Linked DNA regions of Homo sapiens: region 1 is linked to region 2. A link means that fine-mapping ties the variant in region 2 to the expression of a gene that starts in the linked region. Tissue or cell type: whole blood. Region 2 holds a variant in brackets; the other region holds the start of a gene. All regions are shown on one strand. Distances are from middle to middle.

What was found. PIP is the estimated chance that this variant, and not a neighbour inherited with it, causes the effect.
Region 1: HS1BP3 starts here. The variant in region 2 is fine-mapped to the expression of HS1BP3 in whole blood (TOPMed, PIP above 0.99).

The regions. Positions count from the first base shown.
Region 1 is chr2:20,649,005-20,654,219 of GRCh38, forward strand. It overlaps HS1BP3 (HCLS1 binding protein 3), which reads right to left and starts at 2,094. Exons shown (of 7, transcript NM_022460.4): 1 at 2,028-2,094. The coding sequence starts at 2,059. It overlaps LOC105373466 (a long non-coding RNA gene), which reads left to right and starts at 2,278. Exons shown (of 2, transcript XR_001739320.2): 1 at 2,278-2,348; 2 at 2,971-3,196. RefSeq lists enhancers at 1,441-1,520, 1,541-1,690, 1,775-2,512 and a silencer at 1,771-2,360.
Region 2 is chr2:20,616,726-20,621,940 of GRCh38, forward strand. It overlaps HS1BP3 (HCLS1 binding protein 3), which reads right to left. Exons shown (of 7, transcript NM_022460.4): 7 at 1,093-2,520. The coding sequence ends at 2,262. Among named protein-coding and RNA genes, the nearest start is that of HS1BP3-IT1, 27 kb to the left of the region's middle. RefSeq lists enhancers at 98-989, 1,374-1,483. The variant G/A (reference allele first, on the strand shown) is at 2,331.

The DNA of each region.
Region 1 (5,215 bases), 32 kb after region 2:
CGCCATCACCCCGGGCCAAGCCACCACCGGCTCTACATGGAAACCTACAAGCCTGTCCTGAATGCTCAGCTCGGCCACTGCCCATGCTCAGCATAGCAGCCAAAGGATCTCTATAAACCAGAAGTTGGGCCCTATTGCACTTGAAATTAAATCTGATGGCCCCTCCACAGCCTTCTCGGCCTTTCCTGATCATCCTTCACTCCCAAGCTTGCCTCTTCACCGCATCACCTAACACTCTCCCTGGGCTCACTCCACTCCAGCATACCAGCCTCGGGACCCTGGCTCCTGCTGTCCTGTCCTCCCAGTACACACTTTTCCAAGATTTCTTTTTCATGGCTCTCTCCCTCATGGAGCTTGTCCGGGATCTGTCCAGGCGCCACTCCATCAGAAAGATGCCTCTTTACCACACCATAGAAAACAGCATGCATGCCTCCTACCACTCTGTTGCCCCCACTGTTTTGTTTTCCTTCATAGCATGTATCATCCCTGACATGTCGTAGATTTGCCCACTGGGCCTGTGCCCTCATTAAAGCTCTACGAGAGGGACTTGTTTGTCTCCTAGAACTAGGGCCAGTACCCGGTACAGAGAAGGCTCTCGATAAACACCTTCTGGCTGAATTCAAGCTTGAGTGCATGTGGCAATGACATGTGGGAGGAGATCGGGCTGGAAAGAGGAGCTGGGGTGCGACTGGGAAGGGCCGGCCTTGCTGCTGGGCTAAGGCGTTTGGACTCACCCTGCAGGCAAGATCCTTGGGTGTGCTGGTGCCCTCAGCAAGAAATGAGCCTGACTCATGTGGCCTTACCACCGCCAGCGCCCCCACATCTGTTAACAAGCCACGTCCAGGCTGTGCAGCGGGGCAGGGAGGGAAGCCACCCACCCCATCCCAAGCACCCAGCACCAAAGTCACACCCCATCCATCTGCACATGGCTGAGGGGCATATACTACTGACGTTGCTCATGCCTGCCAATCTGAAACCTCCAATTCACAGAAAAGGAAACTGAGGCTTGGTGAGAGGAGGTGACGTAAGTGGCAGTAGGGAAACCTCTTCTGCCCATGAAGATACAACTGTAACCACACTTGATCATGAAAGACCAAGCAGCCTCCGACATCAGGGTTTACAAAAGGAATCATACCTTTCTAGACCTGAAGTCACGGGGAATTCCTGATTACAACTGGAAGATCAACAGTTGGCTGGGTAACACGTTCATTTATGTCATAAATTGGCATCTTAGCCTAAGACTTTGTGTAGGGAGAGCAAGGGTGAAGTGTATGAAAATATTTGAAGTAAATCACTTTACAGCGTTTTAAAGGCGGAAAGAAGTAAAAGCACGTGCCTCCCAGCCTTGCCAGGATCCACCTTGGGCTGGGTCCTCCAGGTCTCGATCAGGGCCGACCCATTCTGCATCCTCCGCCTGGACCCCTCCAAGGCTTTTGCTGTAACTTGCGCTCTCCTGAGCTGCCTCGCAAGCAGCAACGACCTCTCCCTGGTCTCTCATCAAACTCATCCTCCCAGAAACCGGGTTCCTGCCCTGTACTGTGTTCCCATGGCAACCTGAGCTTACTACCCGCTGCTGGCATCACCCCCTCTCCGCTGCAGCCCCCTGCAGGGCGAGCTTGTCTGATTCGCCTCTGTCCCCAGTGCCCAGCACCGGGCCTGGGACTCAGGGAGCTCTGAAAGGATGGGGAACTAGATTTTCGGGCTCAAAAGAGAAGAACCCAAGGCGGTAGGAAAGGAGAGCAGAGTCCCCACTGCGCCCGCCTGCACTGAACCAGTCAGTCCCAGGGCTCCCGCTGTCCTTGGCTAGTTCTCTACCCTCCAGAGGGCCTCGGTTTCCTCATCTGTAAATCGGGGTCGCCACCTCTCCTGCAGGGCGGTGCAGGGGCCCAGCCCGGATAAGCCACCGAGGGCGCTGGGGAGACCTGCACCAGGTCCCTGGCCTAGGAGGCGGCGGCCTCCCCCCGCCTCTCCGCCCGGGCGCCCCGGACTGCGAGCTGTGCGGTGTGGGGCGCGGGGGTCTGGCTCACCTGGAGGTGACGAGCACCGCCGGGGACTGCATGACGGCGGCGGGGACTCCGGGCGGGGCGCGCAGTCACGGGACCCGGCAGTGCCCGCGTCACCGCGTCCCCGCCCTGCCTCCCGCTGCCCTGGCCTGCCCCCTGGTGGCAGCGGCCGCGCAGTTCGCGCCTGTGGCCAGAGGCGGGGCGGAAGCGCGGCTGGGCGGGTCCCGCACGGTCGCCGTCGGCCTGCGCTGCTCGGAGCTTCCGGAGCACCCAGGCTGAGCCGCGCCCGCCGCAACCACCTAGAAGAAGCCCAGCCTGGCCCTGGCACACGGTGAACCTTAATCGGTGTGTCTGTTTTGCGCTAAAGTTTAGCCGTTAGAGAGACGGGACTCTGCTGTTTCCGCCGCCAGTCCCCATTACAAAACCACTCCCCCTCTGCCCCAAGACCATTTCATTCAACCGATCGGTCAACAAATATTTACCAAGCTGGGGCTCTGTCCAGGCTTCGTGGGGTCTTCTTCAAGCTGCACAGTGAACGCCACGCAGCAGCCCAGTCCCCTTGAGCTTGCTGCCTCCAGCTAGCTCGCCTATCTGGTTCCTACTGCCTGCCCGCTCCATAAATGGCAGGCACTCTCCCGACAGGGGATCTTTAGAGAGGCAGCCTCTGCTGCTTGGCAGAGCCCTGGTGGAGGCCTCCCGGGGCCGGGCCTGCCTGGGATGGCTGCACTTGGGTCCCCAGCTGGAGCAGGGCAACGGGGTCCAGGAGCCAGTTCCCCTCAGAAGGGGAACGTACAGACATGCAGACCCTAACAGACCCACTCATTTTAGATTCACCTCTCCATGGGGTGAGGAACAGAGAGATCGTATCACCTGCCAACGTAGCCCAGGGAAAGAAAAGCTGAGTCTGCAAACAGGGCCAGCAGAAGGTGCAAACTGCTGCCCCTGTTCTGTTACTCCCTCCACCCAGAGCCCCAGTGACAAAAAGAAAGAGAAGCTGGGCTTAACTATACCAGAATTCACGGCAGGGCGATGTCAGCCATGTTTCCTGAGCCTATCAACCACCGCCACCAGCATCACCAACAATATCTACCAGTTTTTACAGATTTTAGTGAAGAAATCCTACAGTAAAAGATTTTGAAAAATGACTTTCCCCAATGTATCTCTTGAATAAATACGGACATTGATATGCCTTATTATTTGTCTCAGATTTGTTTATAGGCAAGATGAGCAATCATGAATGAAGTATGACAATGAATGAAAGTTCTGAGGGAGACCCTTGAAGGCTGCAGTGAAGAGCTGGGATGATGGCGGGAACCCCTGTCTGCTCTGCTGCTCATCGGCCTGTCCGTCTGCAGGGCCGTGTTCATGGCTGCAAATGGTCCTCCGTGTTTTGTTTAAATTGGCATGCCCTACTTTAGAGAAAGGGAGTTCAGGGTCTGGACAGAAAGCAGTATAGGCTTCAGCATTCCAGGAGTCTGAGTGTAGTGCCAGGCAGTCGAGCAGTCACCATTGCACTCACATTTATCCAACAGACAGAAACACAGTGAATAAGACACTTTAGATGCCTTCAGTGGACTTCTTTGCCCTCCTACATGGGGAGTGGGTGGGGGTCTGGAAAGGCTTTCTAAAGGAGCTGAAGTCCAAGGGAAAACCTGAAGAAATATGGATAGAATAGATTAGAAGGAATGTCACGTGCAAAGCCCTAGCGACAGGATAGGAACACCAGGGAACAGGGGGAAGAGGCCAGCAGGAGCCAGGGTGTGGACAGCCTAGTGCACCAAGGCCAGGGCTTTGCCTGATCCTGAGGCCAACACAGCGCCATCAGAGGGTCAGGGACATAGGAGTGGCTGGGCCAGCTAGGGCGTGGGCAGGGTTTTGGAGCATGTTGAAGGTATGAAGATGAGCTGGACTGCAGAACAATCCAGACAAGAGACAATGGTCCCATGAACTAGGGTGATGGCCACCCAGGTGGAGAAGAGGGGACGGGTAAGAGGGCCTTAGGAGAAGGAGTTGGTCAAGACTTGGGAATCCAATGGGTGTGGGCGGGAAGAGATAAGATACCACTATGGTTTGGCTCTTGTGAGTGGCTGGACATTGGTATCATTCTCTGTGGCAGGGCACCTGGAGAAGGAGCATATTTTTGGTAGGATGATGGGTTCTGTTTCAGACAGGCAGTGTTTGAAGGGCTGGACCTATTGATGCGATTGGGTTTATGGCCCTGGGCCTCAGGAAGCCGACCTGGGCTGGAGACTGACATAGGAGTCATGGGTAAAAAGGAGGCTGTTGAGCCTGAGAGTTGGGGTGAGCCCACCAAGGATGGTCTACAATCCAGAGATATGCAGCGGTGTTGGGGGGCTGCAGAGAAGGGGACTCTCCATCATTGTGGGAGCTGGTAGCATGTCTGTCACCAATGCCTTGTAAGCAAATGAGAGGGCCTCACCTGTGCCCCTGGGGTTGTGAAGTGTGCACCTCAGGAAGACTCGGCCCACCTGTCAAGAATGCAACTGGTTTCCCATGAAAGAACGACCCCATTCCCAACAGCAATCCCATTTTCTGCCTCTGTGGGTCCCACGTGCCCCTCTATGGCTCCAGCGCGTAATTGTATACAATGCATGGAATGTGGGATCTAAATCTGATATTTTCTGCTTCCTGTTTAATTCAAGGAGCCCCTTCCATGGCTGAAGCTGCGGTAACACAAACCACATTGCAAAGGATTTTCTATTTCTCTCTTTCTCACTGCCCTGGGAGGAACACTCCAGGCCTCAGTTTCCACCCAGGAAGTCACTGGGCCTCAGGACACTGTGGTCACTGAGAGACACCCGCAGCCTGCAGGGGGTGCTCTGAACTCTGGCTGAGCCATGCACCAACGTTTCCCATGGTGGCTCGGGTCTTCTGGGACCTTATAATTTGTCTCTGTTCCCTAATGTGATACTTTAGAGCTCCAGGGTCTGGGCACATCCACATGGAGCAGGGCCACCACCTTGCTTGTCACTCAGCAAACACTCATAGGTACAGCTCCAGGCCTGTTATCTCCCCAGGCCTGGGGGCTACAGAGCCTTATCCTGTGGGGCTCACAGCCCACTGCAGGGGCTCACAGGCCACTCTAGGACAGCTGGAGATTTCAACAAGGATGCACGCCTAGGGTGCTATGGTGCACAGAGGAGGGCACATAACTAACTCAGCCTAGGGTTGGGCATACAAAGAATTCTGCC
Region 2 (5,215 bases):
CCCTGGCTGAGTCCATTGTTTTAAAGGACAATCCTCTCCCCCTCTCCCCTCCCTGGTGGTCTGCCATCAGCCTAGGCACAGAAAAGAACATCACTAACACAGGCTGGAATGGGTCACAGGCACAGGCTTTATCAGGCGACAAGGATCATTGATTGGCCATGAGTCGCAGTCCTGTGGGTGAAGAACAAGCCACAGATACTGGAGCATCAATATCTGGGGGTCTTTGTGATGGTGTCCAGAGAGTCCAGACCACTGAGGAGGTGGCGTCCACAGTGGATGAATACACAACGGGCAGGCCAGGTTCTGCCAGTGACCCCAAGCAGAGCACCAGCCCCTGTGGCCACCTACCCCGCTGTGCCCTCTGCTCCTATGTCACTTGACCCAAAGCAGGTGGGGAGCAGGAGGCAGGGAGCCAGCATCAGGGTGCAGAAAGGGCAGGGAGGGGACAAAGCCCAGAGGAGAGCTGGAGCCACCTCTCGGAGGAAGACCTGGCCCCATCCCCTCCCCACTCCTACTGAGACCTTCCGCTGCAGTCAGCAAGGGATGCAGGGCCCGGGGCTGAGTGCTGGGAAGGAGGGGCGGGTGTGAAGGGGGAAGGCAAATGGGTGGAGCCGGTGCTGGAGCTGTCCCAGAGCTGGCTCAGAGCCCTGGGGAGGGAGCTGACCCTCTGAGCCTGGGTTAAGACGGAGGAGGAGGGAGTCAGCTCTCGACCCCAAAACCACCTGTTTCCTCTCACTCTAGCACTGGTGGAGGGGAAGCTGCTCAGGACAGGGCGCCACAGCTGGAGAGGGACGTGATCAGATGCAGGACAGAGCAGACAGGTCCTGGCACGGGCCAGGAGCTGAGACACTCAACACTGATGGCTGCAAACCACCCGCACCATCAGCCGGGGGCTCCCTCAGGGCTGGCTTTGGTGTCTATCAGAAAAGGGTCTGAGGTCCTAGTCCCACCCGCTCAATGCTTCTGCCAGGCAGGACAGGGCCAAGGAGCAATAGTGGTTGCATTTCCTTTAAAACTACTGTTTCATTAAAAAACAAAACAAAACAAAACAAAAAACTAGCTCTGAACATGAAGAATTATATCCAAGAAAGACACCTTGACATTTTTTGCTTTATTAAACATCATTCACTGAGAATTTCCAAAGCACTGTGTGGTGCCTAGACCTGTGTACCAGCGCTCTGGGGGTCGGGAGAAGTCTAAGGCACGGGCCCTGCCCTGGCGCACGGCTCCTTCTCCCTGGGAAGGCAGCTCCACTGGTGAAAGGCCACTGACCAAGTCCAGACCCTGAGGACGACGAAGGCCTCGGGGCAGAAGCCTGAGAGAATCATGCCCCACTGGCAGTGGGAGGCGGTGCAGGCTGGGAGCCCTGCCCAGGCCCCAGGCTGAGCTGTGGGGAAAGCTATGACCCAGTTTGCTGAGAGCTGCAATGACGAACATTGGCTCTGTGCCCAGAGGCCCAAGAAGGCCATGGACTGGGCTGGCCTTTCCTGGGAAAGGGGGAAGGAGGAAGAACTGGGGCCTAGCAGGGCCGTCTATACCCTGGAGAGGCAGGGCCTGACTTCTCCCTTTAGAGCTTGCATCAAGAGGAGGCTCAGGAGAGAGAGACTTGCATCAGAACACTCCAGACAGCCGATCTCCCACTCAGTATTCCTCTCCTGGGAGACCCACCCAGACCCTGCAGGCCCCTGGCAGCCACGAGGAGCAGAGGCCCTGGAGTAATTTGGCTTGGGGACGTCCCCACCCCAGGCCCAGGCCAGTCAGTCACCCAGGCTACAGCTTAGGGTAGGGGAAGGGGAGGATACCGGTCACTCCTTCTTACTATGCGAACAGAGGCAGAGGAGGGATAGAGGCCCAGCCCCAGTTTGGGTCTGTGCTGGGGCTGGCAGAACCCGTGGGCATGAAGCTTCCCTGCCCCATGTGACACCTCGCTACGGCCCCACATGTCTTGCTTCATCCTTGGGGCTGGGCTTCTGGTTGGCAAGGCATCCCCACACCCTCCCTCCCCTTCATGTCCACGGGGAATAAGACACATTGGGCTCTGGCTCCTAGGGTGAGAGCCGCTCCCGCAGCCCGCAGGCTTCTACTTTGGCCCCACAGCCCCGGAGAAAATGGAACCATGCAGTTCTGGGTGCTGTGACCCAGGCTTCTGCCTGGCCTCCCCTGGGGGTGGGGAGGTTCTGACCCTGCAGGGCCCAGTCCCTTCCCTTCACACCGATGTCCCCACAGACAGGCCTGCTGGGCCAGGGGCCAGCATGGAAGGGTCAGAAGAGGCTGGGGGCGGCCTGGGCTGGTGTATCGTGGTCCTGGATGTACTGCAAGATGTCCATCTC[G/A]TCCATGGCTTGGATCTGCTCCTGCGGCTTCTGCTGCCCAGCCACAGCTTCAGCCGGGCCCGCTTTGGGGGGAACAGCTGGTTTTCTGGGTATCACCGGCTTAGCTGCCACTGGTGGCTTGGGCTTAAGCTGGGGCTTGGGTTTGGGCTCAGCTCCCAGGTTCAGAATCTGGTCCAAGTCCTCTTCAACTCTAGGGAACCACAGGGAGGAACCCTGAGCATAACACTGCCACCCCGTGACAGGAACAAGACCCCAGGCAATGCCAGTGCCCACACGGGGCTGGGCAGCGGCAGGGAGCCCAGCCTCGGCCAGGTCAAGGCCCCGCCCTGCTCTGCCCCATTCCACTCTGGCCCCTCCACCCATCCTGCCCAGAGGAGACACGAAGGCCAGGGCTCTCCTTCCCTCCCACCCACAGCAAAGCAGGCACAGGGCAGGCCCCACGCAGCCTCCTGAGAGTTGCTCTTCAGGTGACCCCACTTGACACACGCTGCCTTCTGTAGGGGGCTTTCCCTCCAATCCCTTCAGAAATAACCACCAGCTACTATGTACAGAGTTCCCGCTCTGTACAGCACTTCAGACACGTTATCATATCTTATCCTCAAAACGCCACTCTGGGGAGGCATGACTGTGCTTCCATCACGCAGATGAGGACGCTGGAGTCCCAGGAGGCCGAGTGACCTCGAGGGGATGGTATGTGACAGTGCCTTTGTTGGAAGGAACAGGACATCGGCCCTTAGAAGCTGAGCCCTCATCCAAAGCAAGTTCAGCCAGAGAAAGAATAACCAGGGGCGCTGAGCCATGGTGGTACAGGCTTGGCCCGCCCACAGTGCCCCGCTGTGGGCCACACGGGTGCCAGACGGAACCCAGTGAGAGCTGAGGATGGCCTCGGCCAGGGCCCACCAAGACTCTGTCATGACCCCAGACCTCTAATCTCCCACTGGTGGGTGGGCAAAAAGCCCTGGCAGTGTTACGGTCACTCAGGACCATCCCTGGGTACTGAGGGCAAGAAACAGGCCAGGCCACTGATTCTCCAGAACTTGATTTCTGGAGACCAGATGCACAGTGGAAGACTCATTCAATCCATTCCACCCACTCAGCTCTGTGCTGAACACCCGTGATGGCCAGACATTTCCACATTCATTAACCCATTCAATAATCTCCAAACACTGTGTGGTCGCAGAGATTAGCCCCGTTTTACAGCTGAGAATACTGAGGTGCAGAGAGGCAAAGGGCCTTGCCCTGAGACCCACAGCTAGTGTGAGGATGAACAGGACTTGGCCTGCATGTGGCTGGTTCTCTGGGGTGTGTTCCCCTGGCTGGGGCACCTAGACTCCAGTGTCACGGCGAGGTTTTCCCTTGTGCTAACGGGCATCTCTACGTCTATCGCTCAGCCATGCTGGAATCAGGTGAGTGAAGGCAGAAGACCTGTAGCACCCACTTGGTCTCTACAAGCTTCGGCTTCCTCATCTACAAGCAGGAGTAACAGTGTCACTGGCACTGCTGCACGGAACTGTACACAGAAGCACAGCACTGCAGGAGGAGAACTGGCTTCCGTTCCTCACCCTGCAACTCCTCCATCAGGCAGCCTCAGGCCACTCCTCCTCCCTGGTCCTCAGTCTCTTCTATAAAGTGGGATTGTACTTGCTCTACCATCCTCACAGGGATTCTTACAAGGATCAAATAAGACAACACAAGGAAAGTAGTTTCCAAATGTACAGGAAGGCTGTATGTACTGATGTCTACTGACAGCCACAGGGGCTGAGCAAGTGGGCATAAGACACAGAAAAGCAGTGCCTCCACCTACAATGAGGGACACCCCCCAGCCCAGTCAGACAGGGGCCACATAATTGCAAAGGCCTGGAAAGAAGGTGTTGAAGTCCAGAGAAGGGAGTGAGCCCTTGGGCCAGAGCAGGCTGGGAAGGCCTCCTGGGAAGGTGGGTCTTTTCAGAAGGGTGAGCCTGGCATGAATAGGGGAGAGAATTCTGAAGAAGGGAGCAGACAGCAGAGGTCTGGAGGTGGGAATGAGAATGAACAGGAAGAACCAGGCAGGCTCATGAGCAGCGGCTTCTTGCCCTGGGGCAGGGCCGGGCAGGGGTGGGGATAGAGAGGCGATACCTCTGATCAGGACAACTCCTGGCACTACCAGAGAGCCTGTGTGAGTATGGAGGTGTCCAGCACAGCACCCCCAGGGGTGGATGCCTGCCTGGAGCCAGCTGTGGAAGGAGCTCCGGACACCCTGCCTGCTTCCTGGCTCAACCTCCTGTGATGGGGCACAAACCCCAGAGAGAGAATTCAGAGTCTGTTTGGATGGCAGAGAAATGAATAAAAGGTGTCCTTCTTGAACAAACCCAGAGGGACTGGCCCAAGCCGGGCCTTCATAGACAGACCAGCTGTCTTGGGGTAGAGGTGATTTCAGGAGGTGTCACTCATGGCCAGTCTGCTCCTGGCCACCTCAGGTCAGATGTTCCGGAGCTCCCTCCAAGTGGCAGCCCTTCCTTGACTCCCCCAGGGCAGGTGCCAGCTCCACTGGCATGATGCAGCCTCCATTGAAGGCTGAGGGTACCTGGGAAAAGCTCAAAGGGACTGAATTATCCTCAAATAGGGGCCCTTTGGAAAATAAAGCAGCCGCTAGAGGCTTATGTCAGATTTCAGGATTAGCCTGCTTGGCAAAGCAGTGACTCTTTGGAACTAATCAGCAGCTGGATTTGCTCCCAGGTGGGTGGTGTACACGGGTGGTCAGCCACGGTGGGAGGCAGCATAGCTGCTCTTGGGACACAGGAGGCTGCAAGGCACCCCTTTTCCAAGCACCCTATTTCTGAGTCATGACTAGGACTAGCTCTCACTAGCGCAAGGTCCAGCTCTTTTCTCCTCCAGGCCCAGCTGGT